Linked DNA regions of Homo sapiens. The protein of the gene in region 1 binds, or shares a complex with, the protein of each later gene. Each region holds a gene or a part of one and is shown in the gene's direction. Other genes may lie near its edges.

Region 1 (8,472 bases):
GATTAAGAAAAAAGATACAAAAATAAGTTTTCGACTCTTTTCAACATGTTTCTGAGTTAGGGTGCTAGTTATCACTGTTATTTTGTAAGTGCTCTAATATATGCATGGTTACGGTTTTATCACAATAATGATGAACTTTTTATGGGGAAGAAAAAGAAACAATTTAGCAAGCTTAACCCATTGTGTTTGATATGCTAAGCTTTGTATGTATAAGTAGTGCAGCCTGTCCTTGTTTTTGGTTGTTACATAGTCCAAACTGATTCGGAAATGGAAAGAAGTTATTAGTGTGATTTTTAAACCCCTGAAATAATGTAAACAAAAATAGCTGTCACAGATAAATATTGTGCTGCCAGGTGTACTGGCTTCACACCTTTAATCTCAGCACTTTGGGAGGCCAAGGCTGGTGGATCACCTGAGCTCAGGAGCTCCAGAGCAGTCTGGGCAGCATGGTGAAACCCCATTTCTGCAAAAAAATACAAAAATTAGCTGGGCGTGGTGGTGCAGGCCTGTAGACTTAGCTACTGAGAGGCTGAGGAGGGAGGATCGCTTGAGCCTAGGAGGTGAAGGTTGCAGTGAGCTGAGATTGCGCCACTGCACTCCAGCCTGGTGACAGAGTGAGACTCGGACTCAGAAAAAAAAAAAAAGTGAATACAAGATAACTTTACATTTTTCTAGAAATATTTTTTGTTGGCTTTTAAAATAATAAATTCAACTATGGTTCTATTATATCTAAAAGTTTTGATTAAATTTGCAAAATTATGTTAGATTCTTGCATGTTTTTGTCATCAACATGTAACAGAAACTGTAACAGAAAAGTCCTTAATTTATTTTTTGATTCATGTAGGATCTGAACCAATGATGCTGGGTTCACCCACATCTCCAAAGCCAGGAGTTAATGCCCAGTTCTTACCTGGATTTTTAATGGGGGATTTGCCAGCTCCGGTGACTCCACAACCTCGATCAATTAGTGGCCCTTCAGTAGGAGTAATGGAAATGAGATCACCTTTACTTGCAGGTAGGTGAATTGCTTAAAATAATTTTATAGACATGCTAGATACAGGGATGTCCAATTTTTTGGCTTCCCTGAACCACATTGGAAGAAGAATTGACTTGGGCCACACATAAAATACAGTAACTCTAATAATAGCTGATGAGCTAAAAAAAAAAAAAAATGCAAAAAAAATCTTAAAATGTTTTAAGAAAGTTTACCAATTTGTGTTGGGCAACATTCAAAGCCATCCTGGGCTTCATGCGGTGTTCAAGCCATGGGTGGGACAAGCTTGTGCTAGAATTTTTAAAAGTGTAGTGGTGCAGCATTCACCCTCATCAATACATTAATTAAAAAAAATTAAGCAATGTGTCTATTATAAAGCAAAGCTTTTAAGGCTCTTGGAATAGAGGTGTAAGAAGTATAAGCTATAATTTCTAGAGCCACTAAAATGTATTCTATGTTTTTTTCATTCTAAGATGCCTTTGAATTGGCTTTTAAGTACCACTAGGAAAGATAACCCTAAATATGACACAATGCTAAGATGCCATTTTTTGTAAAATTTCTGTGTCGGAGATGTCAGAGTGTGGTGGGGGAAGAGTGCCTCACAGAGTTGATGAAATACCATCATTTAGCTTCAACTGAATTCATTTAAAGTAATTCATCTTAAGATACAAGAATAGGAAATAATCGGTCAAAAGAAGTGTAACTTGAAGATGTAGATACGAATTCTGCCTTTAGTCTTAGTGAATTGAGATTCTCACATATAGCGTGTTTAAGGAAACTTGGGGGGGAGGTTTTATACACAGAATTTGTGATTGTCAGGGCAAAGTATTGTAAATGCAGCCTGTGTTTATTACAGAACTCCTTTAGCAAAGAAATACTTTAAAAAATGACTTCGAAGTTTTAACTGAGTAGTGAGAATTAGATACAGAAGTGTTGAATTCTAATTGTGAGCTAATATCCTTTAGTAGTAGTTCAAGTGAAAACTCTTTTTACCTTAATTGCCCTTTAAAGTATTTTTGCTTTAAAATGGTTTATTATTTAGGATTTATCAGGGAGAATTATAAATTATATTTGAAGTAATTCATTTAACATTAAACATTAAATTTCAAATGTGTTATTTTATTATGGTAGCCAACGTATATTGATTGCTTATGAGCCTGGCAGTATGCTAATCATTATTTTGTCAATCTTAAAGGGTAGGTAATAGTATCCCCATCTTTAAAAAGAGAAAACTGAGGCTAAATGCAATAAGTAATTTGCTGAAGCTCACTTGCTAGTAAGTGAGCGAGCGCTATAAACCTCAGGTTAGTCTTATTCCATAGACTGTGCTCTAAATAGCTTAAGCTGTACAGTCCAGGCTCAGACATTAGTCTTACCGATGGCCTGGGCTGCATCACTATTTGACATTGCATGTTCTCTGATCGATAAAGACATCTTTATGTCACAGAACTTGGTCCTTTTACTACATCTTTATTATGTACTTAAATATATTTCTACTGTGAGAAACATGAATGGGATCTACTTAATCTAGATAGTCAAACTCTACATAGGGAATTGTATTTATTCAGGAATCTACAGACTGGAGCTGTTTAGTACCTACTTTCAAGTGAGAAATGGGATCAAGTTTTGTATTTAAATGTTAAGCGTTTTGTAGAGTGAGCAAAAGTTACATGTGTTTTCTGAAAACTAAGATTTTCATTAACTACTTACTCTGAATCCTTTTATTCAGAGTGCAGTCTATGGATCAGCAGCATTGGCATTACCTGGGAGCTTATTAGAACTGTATAATCTCAGGCTTCACCCTACACCTTCTGAATCAGAGTCTGAATTTTAACAAGGTCCCCAGGTGACTGTTCAGCATATTAAAGTTTGAAAAGAACTAACAGACAAGATTTTAAGTCAGTATTTCAAAAATATAAATTTAAAAAATCTTACCAAAAAGAAGAATCCCTTTTTTTTTTTTTTTTTTTGTACACTGTAGGTGGGTCACCACCACAACCAGTTGTACCAGCTCATAAAGATAAAAGTGGCGCTCCACCAGTTAGAAGTATATATGATGACATTTCTAGCCCAGGACTTGGATCAACACCTTTAACTTCAAGAAGACAGGTAATATAAATACCCTTTTGATCCCCAATGAACAACATCATGGTTTTATGTGTCTGTTCAGTGAGAGTCAATACTTTGAAATGTTTCCCTGAAGTCTGTTTTAATGTAACTGTGTTGCACAGAATAAACATTAAACACATCATAGAATCTACTTAAATTGTGTTGATGATGAACTGTACTTAACAGTGTAGAACTCTAGATTTTCTCTCATAGGTAATTCTCAGGTGTTTATAGGTATGCCTTATCCACCTGCCCATAGCTCCAACCTACTTAATATACATGTAGAATGTGACTATGGTTTAAATCATTCTGATTGTTTAAGAAGTTTAATATTTAATATTTAAAAATTATGTGAAAGAACAAATGAAAATTTAGAGTTTCATCTAGATCTAGGGCACTCGTCAGCTGAGAAGTAGTATGGACTTGTCTTTATTTTCTTCTTTTTTTAGGGTCCCCAACAGGGTCCTGATCAGTTGCCCAGGCTAGAGTGCAGCGGCACAGTCATAACTCTGCAGCCTTGAACTCCTGGGTTCAACCAATCCTCCTGCCTCAACTGTCCTATTGGGATATAGGCACGTGCTGCTATGCCTGGCTAATTGTATTTTTTTTTGTAGAGATGAGGTCTTGCCGGATTCAGGTGATCCTTGCACCTTGACCTCTCAAAGCGCTAGATTATAAATGTGAGCCACTGTGCCTGGCCGACTTTTCTTTTAAGTAGAAAATTTAGTAGCTTCATAGACACAAGTGTTGTTTCCTATTATTATTGTGCTTAGTAGGACATATAAACAAAGTTTATCAGTTAAGTTGGTAAGTTCTTTATATAAAGATATGTCTGCTGTTTGCTTTAGATATATGTTTTATGCCTTTCCCTAAATTGTATTTAGTGAAGTTGAGAGTTCAAGAATATTAGAAAGCATTTTTCAGTGGATTCGTGCTATTTATAGGCTTGATATGTCTGGCATACTAGGCTTACTTGTCAAGTAAAGCAAAATTCATTCACTGTGGTAAACAGATTACTGTTTCTTCCCAACACTTCTAGACCTGCCTTCCTGTCCAACAGGAGCCACTAGCTAAGTGTGGCTATTGATACTAAAGATATAGCTAGTCTTTATTGAGATACACTTTAAGTATAAAATACACACCAGAGTTTGAAGACTTAGAAAGAATGTAAGGTATCTTATTTTTTTATGTTGATTACATATTGAAATGATAATGTTTTGGATGTGTTTGGCTAAATATTACTAAATTTCACCTGTTTGTACTTTTAAAATGTGCCTACTAGAAATGGTAAAATTACACGTATGGAATTTATTGTTCCTAATGGATAGATATCCTGGTCTGGGATGGTTTTCTAAAGGTTGATAAGTAAAGCTTATGATTAGTTTGGTATGAAGGCTGGGCGTGTTGGTGCATGCCTGTAATCCCAGCACTTTGGGAGGCCGAGGTGGGCGGATTGCTTGATTTTTATGTATTTTTATTTATTATTATTATTTTTTGAGACAGGGTCTTGCTCTATCACCCAGACTAGAGTGCAGTGAAATGGTCATGCCCCACTGTAGCCTCGACATCCTGGGCTCAAGTGATCCTCCCACCTCTTCTCCCTAGTAGCAGGGACTACAGATGTGGACCACCATGCCTGGCTAACTTTTGTATTTTTTGTAGAGATGGGATTTGTCCTGTTGCCCAGGGTGGTCTTGAACTCCTGAGCTCAAGTAATCCACCTTCCTTGGCCTTCAAAAGTGCTGGGATTACAGGTGTGACCCACTGTGCTGGGCTTTGGGCAGATTGCTTGAACCCATGAGTTTGAGATCAGCTTGGGCTACATGGCGAAACTCTTGTCTCTACTGAAAATACAAAAAAAAAAAGGCTAGATGTGGTGGTGTGTACCTATAGTCCCAGGTACTCAGAAGGCTGAGGTGGGACGATTGCTTGAGCCTGGGAAGCTCAGGCTACAGTGGGCTGTGATCGTGTTACTGCACTCAGCCTGGGTGACAGAGTGAGACCCTGTCTCAAAAATAAAATAATAAAAACTAAAAAATTAAAAAATTGTTTGTTGCAAGAACCACTGGCTTCTAAATTTGTGCAAGGTTTTATTACTTCTCTGATGATACAGACAAAGGCTTACAGATATTGCTGTATTCAAAATGTTTGAAAGACTCGTGGGTCATAATTTATAGAGAATGTTTTTGATTTGAAAGTTGGTAAGAATATTATTGCTAGATTAGAGCCCAAATTAGTTATGCCCCCTGGAATTTGCTCAGTTTGCTTTCTAATCATGAAAGAATTGGCATTAATAATTGAGGAATAAATTTTATATCTCTCCCAACATTCTCTCAGCATTTAGTTCTGGTTGCTAAATGAAGCTATTTGAGATTTCCTTAGTTTAATTAGAATCTGTTTTAAAAAATCTTTATTGAGTTCTAGAGAGATTCTGTTCTCATTTATTGATTGGATATTGTCTTTGTTTTAGAAGGATTTTAAACTATTTTAATCCTTAATTTTCTTATATTTAAAGGAACTAAAATGGATAATTTACCAGTTTTGGAACTTTCTACTGGTAGTGGTAGGGATATGCTGTCTTTTATTGTTTAGACTGATTTGAATCTATAGTGTTTCATGGTTTCTAAGTATCTGTTGAAAATCAAATTTTGTCACCCTTCTGTTTTTCTGTATGAACCTGGTCATTTTAAAAATTACCATTATCTCTGTTATTTCAAATATTGTACATTAGAAACTAAAAACAAATAGTTAACATGTCACCTTTTACAGAAGATAGTCTTTTTTTTTTTTTTTAACATAATATGACTTTTCTTATTTTAAACAAATACTAAGGGATCTAGTAAATTTTAGGTTAATACTGTTTAACTTATGGGGAAAAAAGAGTGCCTTTGTACTTTGAGCTAATTAGAGGCATCTCTAGCACATGATAAAAATTCAGTTATCCATTGAATGAAGCCTTTTAACACTTACTGTATTTATGTTTTGCATTTTTACCATAACACTTTCTTCTGTTTGTGTAGCCAAACATTTCAGTAATGCAGAGTCCTCTTGTTGGAGTTACATCTACTCCTGGAACAGGTAAGTGATTCTTTCTTTTTTTTTTTTTTTTTAAAAGACAGGGTCTGGCTCTGCTACCCACGCTGGAGTGCAGTGGTGTGATCACGGAGTAAACAACTCTGACACCAAATACTTCTCTATTCTTCGAATGAATTTAATATAAAATGTTTGTTGGTAACTGCCAAAATTTTTTATTTTATATTTCAAACTTGGAGATTTTCCAAAATCTATAACTTCTTTCAGGAAGGAAATACTTTGTATATTGATTATTTTCTGAATCAAATCACCCTAAAGGTATGGTGGGGTGAATATTCAGAATGTCTTTTTAAGAAATTGTATACTTAATAGATGTTTGAAGTATCTCCTTAGTTATTAAAACTTGTCAATAAAAAAGCCATTGGAATTGGGATGAAAAGGAATAGTTAAGACACTGAATAATAAAGGTGTTTTGAGAGATGTTAATGCATAGTTATAAATCTAAATGCCGTTGAATAGAAGCAACCACTGATTATATACCTAGTTTTTCTTTAAGATTAATGGCTTTTTAATAATCATCATTATGCTTAGCACAGTTCTTCATATGTCGTCATATGTGTATAATCCCATCAAATGTTTATTCAGCAAATATTTGAGCACCTAACTGTGTACTCTGGGAAATAGTAAACAAAATAGATATTCCCTGCCTTTATGGAACTTACATTTATTTGCAGAATTTACATTTATAAACAAAACAAGTAAATTATAACATTTGTTAGAAGGTATTACATTTTGTGGAGGAAAAAATTAAGCAGCAAAGGGGGGGAGGGGGTAGAGACTTAGAGTTTTAAATAGGGTAATGTATTAGTTTTCTGTTGCTGCCATAACAAACTACCACAAACATAAAAGTGGCTTAAACAATACACATTCATTATCTTTCATTTCTGGAGGTCGGAAGTTTGAAATGGGTCTTGGTGGGCTAAAATCTAGACATTGGTAGGGCTGTGTTCATTTATGGAGGTTCTAGACAAAAATCTATTTTTCTTTTTTTTTTTGAGATGGAGTCTTGGTCTGTCGCCCAGGTTAGAGTGCAGTGGCACCATCTCGGCTCACTGCAACCTCCACCTCCTGGGTTCAAGTGATTCTCCTGCCTCAGCCTCCCGGGTAGCTGGGATTACAGGTGCTCGCCACTGCGCCTGGCTAATTTTTTTTTTTTTTTGTATTTTTGGTAGAGATGGGGTGTCACCGTCTTGGCCAGGCTGGTCTCGAACTCCTGACCTTGTGATCTACCCACCTCGGCCTCCCAAAGTGCTGGGATTAAAGGCTTGAGCCACCGCGCCCAGCTGGCAATAATCTATTTTCTTGCCTTTTCCATTTCTAGAGGCTACTTAATGTTTCTTGGCTTATGGTTCCCTTCCTCCATCTTCACAGTCAGCAACTTTGTAACTCTTTGACCATTCTTCTGTAGTCATATCTCCCTCTCTCTTTTAAAGACCCTTGTGAATACATTGGGCCCTTCTAGATAATCTAGGATAATCTTTGTATTTTAAGGTCAGTTGATTAGCAGGGTTAATTCCACCTGCAACCTTAATTCCCTTTGCCATGTAATGTAACATTCACAGGTTCCAGGGATTAGGTCATGGACATCATTTGGGGACCTACCCAGCTTATTCCACCTACCACTGATAGTTAGGGGGCAAGTAAACTTTACTCAAAAGTCTGTAAGTGAGGGAGGTAGGGAATAGTATTCTAGACGGAGGGAACAGTGTGTCTGGGGTGTTCAAGGAAGAATAAGGGGATGGTGACTGAAATGGAGTAAGTGAGGGGGAGAATAGTGGAAAATGAGGTCAGAGAGGAGAGGTAATGGGGGCAGATGTATTACATGGCCCTGTAGGTTATTGTCACAATTGGTCTTTACCCAGAAAAGGTGGAAGACAATAAGGATGAGACTGTTGCTGGGTTCAACTAGTTTGGGAGTAAAAGTTAGCTTAGAAGCAAGGAGACAAGTTAGGAGGCTACTTGTAGCAATCTAGGTGAGAGATGATAGTGATAGAAAAAGTAGGCAGGCAAGAAGGGAAATAATACAATAACAGGGAAAGATGGAACATAAGAAACAATAGCAAGACAGTAGATTTTAAACTAAGCAAATCAGGCATGTGCCTGTAGTTCCAGCTACTCGGAAGGCTGAGGCAGGAGGATTGCTTGAGCCCAGGAATTCGAGGTTGCAAGGGAGCTGATTTTGTCACTGCACTCCAGCTTGGGTGACAGAACAAGACCCTATCTCAAGAAAAAAGTAAATAAAAATTTAAAAAAAAAAGCACGCAAAAAAACTAACC
Region 2 (7,000 bases), on another chromosome or scaffold:
TAATCATTGAATTGATTCATTAAGTCTTTAAGTTCTCTTGCATTAAGGAACTGCTAAGCATTAATTTTCCTTGGATTTTGCTAATGTAATTGGACTTAAGCTCATACTCAAACTGAGGTTATATATATGTACATGTATGTAGAAGAAATGATGGCGGTTACTGTAGCTGTACTTGTGAAAAACTAGGATACTTTTCTTGGCAGCATTACTAATGTCATATCAAGAGATTGCCTCAAACCAGAAGCCCCTGTCTTGCTCATGTTAGAATTTAAAGTAGGGTTAATGTCTTAAGGTTCCCCCAGAAGGAGATTTGAGTGCAAGTTGTTTATTTAGGAGGTGATCTCACATGAATAAGGGAGTGTGGAGGCCAGGGAGGGGCTAAGACAGTTAAGGGAAGGATTCACTCCTGTCCATCACTGCTTGAGTGCTGCTGGGTTGTGCAATGGAGTTCTAATTCCCTGGCATTTCTCACCTGCCCATGAAGGCCTCAGCAAATAGAAAACCGGCAGGCCAATAGATACAGGTGCAGGTAGTTGCAAGTCAGGTTAAAGCGATGGTACCGAGGGGAGGGGATGGGGCAGAGACAGTGTCTCTTACCCCGGATGAAGGAAGGCTTCCCTGCTTTTATGTGTTTGGGACCTGGGACGCTTTCAGATGCCCTTGAGGATTTTTATTGAGTATGTATCTATCTGTCTGTTCCCTTATGTCTGTAGATTGTCCCCAGCTACGGAAAACAAGCTCCGGCTGCATTACCGTAGGGCCCTCAGGAACAATACAGATCCCTACAAGCGGGCCGTGTACTGTATCATTGGCAGATGTGACGTCACCGACAACCAGAGTGAAGTGGCGGACAAAACTGAGGATTACCTGTGGCTGAAGGTAGGCACTGTTTCCCCTGCCCACATAGGGCTTTACCCCTTTTCTGTGCTCAAGTCCCCGCAAAGATTTTACCTGCTTAATGTATGATGCCAATACAGTGATCAGGACCAGTGGGTTCCTCGTCTCCTGTCCCCATTTTTTGTTGTGTAATTCCCAGCTCATAACCATAGCCTTAAACACAGCTTCTAGCTGACATCATTGAGCATGGCTGCTGAACAGCTACAACTCTGTGCATGTGGCTCAGGGTGTCATTTGTACCAATGCATGTGTTTCTCTTGGGGATTTAGTTGAACCAAGTGTGTTTTGACGACGATGGCACCAGCTCCCCACAAGACAGGCTCACTCTCTCACAGTTCCAGAAGCAGTTGTTGGAAGACTATGGTAAGATTCTGGACATAACCACCTTTCCCTTCTCTTGTCCACTTAAGGTGACTACTTCAGTTTTCCTCTGGGAAAATTTTTCATCTCTGAACTTTTGTCTTTCTTCCAAAACTCCTATAGATTGTCAAGGCAAAACACAACAAAACTACCATTCCAAATTCAAATAAAGGGCATGTGGCCTTAAGAAATACATAAAACTTATATGGTCATACACAATAATCTGTTTTCTCTAATTCTTTGAACTGTTCTAGTAGACATATGCTCAGGGAGAGAAAAAGAAGACTTAGCTGTTGCTTCCTAGTCGATCGTACCAGTCACTAGATCTGAGCACAAAGGAGAGAGAAACAGCCTTTCTTCTTTTTTCCCGTATTTTTTAAAAACTGAGAAGAAAAGAAGATTCCAAATAGTGGTTACCAGTTGTTGCATTCAGATTTCTGTGACTGTGAGTAAACTGAAACTCCTTTGAAATCTTCATTTCTCTCCTTGAGTGACTTAACAGGGTAAAGGAGATAAACACTCTCTGTGGTCCATTTTAAGGTCCTTAGCTCTGTTTCTCTCCCACCTAATGCAAGCAGTTGGAGTTTTACAGCACAGTCACAGTTTCCAGTAATGTTATGAGGTCTAGAGAAGGTGGAGGAGCCAGGTCACATTTCACATGGCAGTTTACTGTATTCAGGGCCCCCTTGATCAATTCAGACTCAATCTGGTGCTTTCTTCCTGTCCAGCAAGTCCTGTGGGCTCACAGGGCTGCTGCCTGGGGGTTGGGCCACCAGTGAGCCCCTTCTTTCTAAGTTGGTTTTATCTCCTCTCCTCTCCTCTCTCCCAGGCGAGTCCCACTTTACGGTGAACCAGCAACCCTTCCTCTACTTCCAAGTCCTGTTCCTGACAGCGCAGTTTGAAGCAGCAGTTGCCTTTCTTTTCCGCATGGAGCGGCTGCGCTGCCATGCTGTCCATGTAGCACTGGTGCTGTTTGAGCTGAAGCTGCTTTTAAAGTCCTCTGGACAGAGTGCTCAGCTCCGTGAGTATTTGGGATTGGATTGACAGTAATGTAACCACAGCACGTCCCCCTTGGGGCGACGGTGGCCACAAAACCACAACCAATAAGGATTTGAGCAAAGGGTACCAGTCATTTTAGAGCATGTGGACAGTTGAGCTTTTTAGATGATTAGTGTTAAGGGTTCCTGCTTCCCCCCCACCCCCCAGCATTAGTATTCCCTTGAAAGTTAAGTATATAAAGTGATGTTCAAAGTACTAGCTTTGTGGCCAGTCTGATTGCCTGGAAAATGCTGAAGAAGCAGCCCCTAGAGTTATGGGTCTGATTCCCATTAGGGCTGGCTTTAATGACATTGGAAACCCCAGCCAGGCATGTGCATACCTGCCTGGGATGAGAGAGTCAGGGGAGAGAGAGGAAGTAAATGTGGATGAATGGCTGCAGGTTCCTTATTGTTGCAGCAAAGTCATCCCAGAGCACATGCCATAATCGTCAGTTGGATTATGTTTTCACTCAAAGACCAGCATATTAGTAATTTATGGCAAAGTGCTGTTTTCTCCACTCTGGGCCTGGGGATGAATTGAGGATAGGATGGTAAAAGGGACTGGCCAAAGCTTATATTAGCAAACTTTGACTGGGCTGCAGGAGTAGATGCTGCTGGGTCTGTGGATTCAGCTTCCATAGTTTCTGGGTTGCATGGGTCAGAGGGGCAGTGTGGTTGTGACCCATTCTGACCCCCACAATGCAGTCAGCCACGAGCCTGGTGACCCTCCTTGCTTGCGGCGGCTGAACTTCGTGCGGCTCCTCATGCTGTACACCCGGAAGTTTGAGTCCACGGACCCAAGGGAGGCCCTCCAGTACTTCTATTTCCTCAGGTAACATTTGCTTTTGACCATTTACTTCAGCTAGTTTCAATTTCTGCCATTCTGAGAATGACTATTAGAGACCTCATGTCCAGACTGGAAACTGAGTTGTTTATTTCCCTTACAGGGATGAGAAAGATAGTCAAGGAGAAAACATGTTTCTGCGCTGTGTGAGTGAGCTTGTGATTGAAAGCCGAGAGGTGAGTGGGTTTCCTTTTCTCTCCTCCCCATGGTTTTCAGTGTGCATGTCCCATGCTCATTCCGTATTGCGTGTTTACTTCAATATGGTTGTGGTGGATAAGGCCTAGGGAGTTTTTGGAGTTTCTTTGGTTTCTAACAATGAAAATATTTATTTCAGTCACACTGATTTTTAGTTTGCCTAAGACTTATCCCATTCATCCCATTTGATTCCCCTCTTTTTTCTCTGAAGACTTATGGAATATGTTTATATCTTTGTCCAATAATTTGAGTAAACTTTTTTCCTTCCACAGTTCGATATGATTCTTGGGAAACTAGAGAATGACGGAAGTAGAAAGGTGAGTTAAATGCATCCTTAGAGAAATGTTCGTTAGCCATTGGGGATTTATAAATATCAAAAAATACACTTAGATTTTAAGATTCAAGGTACTAAAGATGCAAATCTGAACAGAGTTGCTTAATTTAAAAAATGGAATGAAAATTATGGGCCCAAATGATGACCTTGGTTTTACACACACTTATATCTCCTTAAAATATGTTAATTTGTGATTACATAGCTTTTTTATTATGTTCAGAATATTCATTTGTTCATGCCTGTCATTTTTTGAGCTGAGAATGCTATTATACATTTCTGCCATTCTTGGCTCAGAAAACATGCAAGGAAAAGAAATTGATTACTGCACCCATTCTCCCAAGATGGGAAAGTTAGACATGCACTTGACCTCCTTCAAAATGCAGTTTCCAAGGGCTTTGAACTCCACAGTGACCCTGGAAATACTTCTGGAAGCTTGAGGGATTTCAGGACTCACTATGCCCATTGGTTGTCATGGCAGGAGGGTCAGAGATCCTGTTGTCAGAGACCAGTCATGACCCTGAATCTCCCTGTGGCCCTTGGAAAGTCACTTGTCCCTCAGGGGCTGAGTTTTCTCGTTTGTAAAAATGAGTGATTTGGACCCAGCAATCTGTAGATGAGCTCACACTGCTCACACCATCTACCTCAGAAGAAAGGCAAGTGACAGTGCTGATGACAGTGGCCTTGCTTATTGGGCAGTGACAATCAACAGGCATTGTGCTGAGTGCTTTGCATAGTTTCTTCTTTAACAGGCTGCACTGGGGCCAGGAGGCTCCTACTGTATGTGAGTTGACAGAGCTAGAAACATAGATAAGACCTTATCCTCTGCTACCTCCCAAGTGGCAGGGCAAGTCACCTCAACCTGGTCCAGCCACCTTGACCTGGTCTAGCCCTGAGAGTCCAGCGCTAGTGGAGAAGCAGAATGGCCAGGCAGAGATGTTATGCACTTGCCTTCATTCTCCCAGGGTGCCTAAGGCCTCTCTCATGCTCTCCTGACCATTTAGTTGCTGTTGAGTGGTGATGGTGATTTTTTTTTAAGAAATGTCCTGTTACCAGCCGGGCGCGGTGGCTCACGCCTGTAATCCCAGCACTTTGGGAGGCCGAGGCGGGTGGATCATGAGGTCAGGAGATCGAGACCATCCTGGCTAACACGGTGAAACCCTGTCTCTATTAAAAATACAAAAAAATTAGCCAGGCGTGGTGGTGGGTACCTGTAGTCCCAGGTGCTCGGGAGGCTGAGGCAGGAGAATGGTGTGAACCTGGGAGGCAGAGCTTGCAGTGAGCCGAGATTGCGCCACTGCACTCCAGCCTGGGAGACAGAGCAAGACTCTGTCTCAAAAAAAAAAAAAAAGAAATGTCCTGTTACCACTTGCTGTGTGTTTTTTCAGCACTGAGTTCCTTTTGCCATCTGTCTTAGAAAGCAAATCCAAAATTTTTCAGATATTTTTTCTAAGCCTCCTGATTTTTCTCTCTAGTTCCTACTTATCAGCAAATTTAAAATCATTGATTTCACTGACTCTCTGGGTCATTTTGGAAAATTAGAAAGCACAGATGTCTTATTGCTGACTCCTCTGTGCTTCTAGTAAGTCTGCCCTTTCATGTGTAGTTTCCTTGGTCTCTTTTATAGTTTTAATAGGACTTTATATCTTTAAGAAAGCCAGAGTCTGGCTGATGAAATATATGCGTTGCCCAGGGCAAGCAATTCCACTTGAAGTATTTTTTGGATCCTAATTGCTTCTCTGTGTTTAAAATAATAGCTCTGTGCACCCGTCTCTCTCTTCCTCCCCCTCCATAATTTGTCTTGTCAGCCTGGAGTCATAGATAAGTTTACTAGTGACACAAAGCCTATTATCAACAAAGTTGCTTCTGTGGCAGAAAATAAAGGACTGTTTGAAGAGGCAGCAAAGCTGTATGACCTTGCCAAGGTAAAGTGTGCCCACTTCCTTCTTTTGCACTTCACAGGTCTGCTGGCCTTTTGGCATTAAATGTGCAGCCACTTGGACAGTGTCATTGTTGTAGCACCCTCCCTGCAGAGGCATTTGCTCTAGTGCTTAGACAGTTAATGGTCCAGTCAGGACAGAATTCCCATTTTACAGCATTATTTCTGCCCATAAGATTTTTCTGACCAAACAACATATTGAAAGGATGTCCTGCAGGCATTGAACTGTTGTCTCACTTGGCAGCAGAATTAGCATCCATCACATTTCGATGGTGAAGCCACTGTTGAAAATTACATTATGCTGACCCTGGCAACCACAGACACACTGGGGAACAGTGGTGTTAGAAAATAAGACCACATCAGTGTGCAGGAAGGAGTGAAAGAAAATAAGACCTTAGCTGGGCGTTTTGAGAGGACTAGAATACATGTTTCTACCGAAGAACAAATGATGACTAAGAACATATGATAACTGCTAAGGATTCTATGACCTAAACAAGATTACATTCTCTCCTTTATCAACTGAGAAAAGTAGACAAAAAAACAGCTATAGGCCAAGTGCAGGGGCTCACGCCTGTAATCCCAGCACTTTGGGAGGCCAAGGCAGGCGCATCACTTGAGGCCAGGAGTTCGAGACTAGCCTGGCCAACATGGCAAAACCCCGTCTCTACTAAAAATATAAAAATTAGTCAGGCATAGTGGTGCATGCCTGTAATCCCAGCTGCTCAGGAGGCTGAGGCACGAGAATTGCTTGAACTTGGGAGGCGGTAAAAAATGTCACCCCAGAAAGTTCTCTTTGGTGGGTAGGGGGCATTATATAGTTGTTCCTTTTATTGATTACTTTATTGATTGCTTCCTTAATTTTAAAAACTTGAGCAGAATGCTGACAAGGTACTGGAGCTGATGAACAAACTGCTGAGCCCTGTCGTCCCCCAGATCAGTGCCCCGCAATCCAACAAGGAGAGGCTGAAGAACATGGCACTCTCCATTGCCGAACGGTAAGCCAGGAGCTGGCTCCATGGGACCCTGAGGGTGCCACTGCCAGTGCCAGGCCACCTATGCCCACCCAAATGCATGTTCAGCTTTACTAGGTAACAGCAGACAGCTTTCCAAAGTGGTTCTACTAACTCACCATGCCACCAGCACTGTGTGAGTTCCTTTGTCCCCGCATCAGAACTAGTACTTGGTACTATCAAACTTAACATTTTTGCCAAAGAAATGGGTATGAAAGGGCATCTCAGTATTTTAATCATGCACATAAAGCTTAATTTTAAGCATTATGCTCGCCTAAATACTGTTGTATACTTTCATCAGCCCTCTCAAAGGCATTCAAGACCAAAGCTAGTGATGGTTGGATGGGGGAGATTCTTAGAGGTGTCGTGGCCAGTGTTTCAGACTAC

The links. The genes of interacting proteins can lie anywhere in the genome.
Region 2: the proteins of NUP35 (region 1) and NUP93 are in contact, whole or in part, in a crystal structure (PDB 7MW1), measured with the Homo sapiens proteins. Residues at the interface, in NP_612142.2 of Homo sapiens: Ala88 (codon at 3,026), Pro89 (codon at 3,029), Pro90 (codon at 3,032), Val91 (codon at 3,035), Arg92 (codon at 3,038), Ser93 (codon at 3,041), Ile94 (codon at 3,044), Tyr95 (codon at 3,047); in NP_055484.3 of Homo sapiens: Tyr266, Tyr269, Asn402 (codon at 832), Ala407 (codon at 847), Asp408 (codon at 850), Lys409 (codon at 853), Thr410 (codon at 856), Glu411 (codon at 859), Tyr413 (codon at 865), Tyr448 (codon at 1,257), His452 (codon at 2,095), Phe453 (codon at 2,098), Val455 (codon at 2,104), Asn456 (codon at 2,107), Leu461 (codon at 2,122).

The regions. Positions count from the first base shown.
Region 1 is NC_000002.12:183,127,443-183,135,914, forward strand, and holds part of NUP35 (nucleoporin NUP35), read left to right. Parts: intron 1-844; coding exon 845-1,015; intron 1,016-2,975; coding exon 2,976-3,103; intron 3,104-3,552; exon of another isoform or gene 3,553-3,675; intron 3,676-6,123; coding exon 6,124-6,181; intron 6,182-8,472. UniProt on the Homo sapiens protein: Functions as a component of the nuclear pore complex (NPC).
Region 2 is NC_000016.10:56,831,129-56,838,128, forward strand, and holds part of NUP93 (nuclear pore complex protein Nup93), read left to right. Parts: intron 1-713; coding exon 714-879; intron 880-1,166; coding exon 1,167-1,260; intron 1,261-2,086; coding exon 2,087-2,278; intron 2,279-2,999; coding exon 3,000-3,126; intron 3,127-3,241; coding exon 3,242-3,314; intron 3,315-3,605; coding exon 3,606-3,650; intron 3,651-5,472; coding exon 5,473-5,589; intron 5,590-6,479; coding exon 6,480-6,598; intron 6,599-7,000. UniProt on the Homo sapiens protein: Plays a role in the nuclear pore complex (NPC) assembly and/or maintenance. May anchor nucleoporins, but not NUP153 and TPR, to the NPC. During renal development, regulates podocyte migration and proliferation through SMAD4 signaling.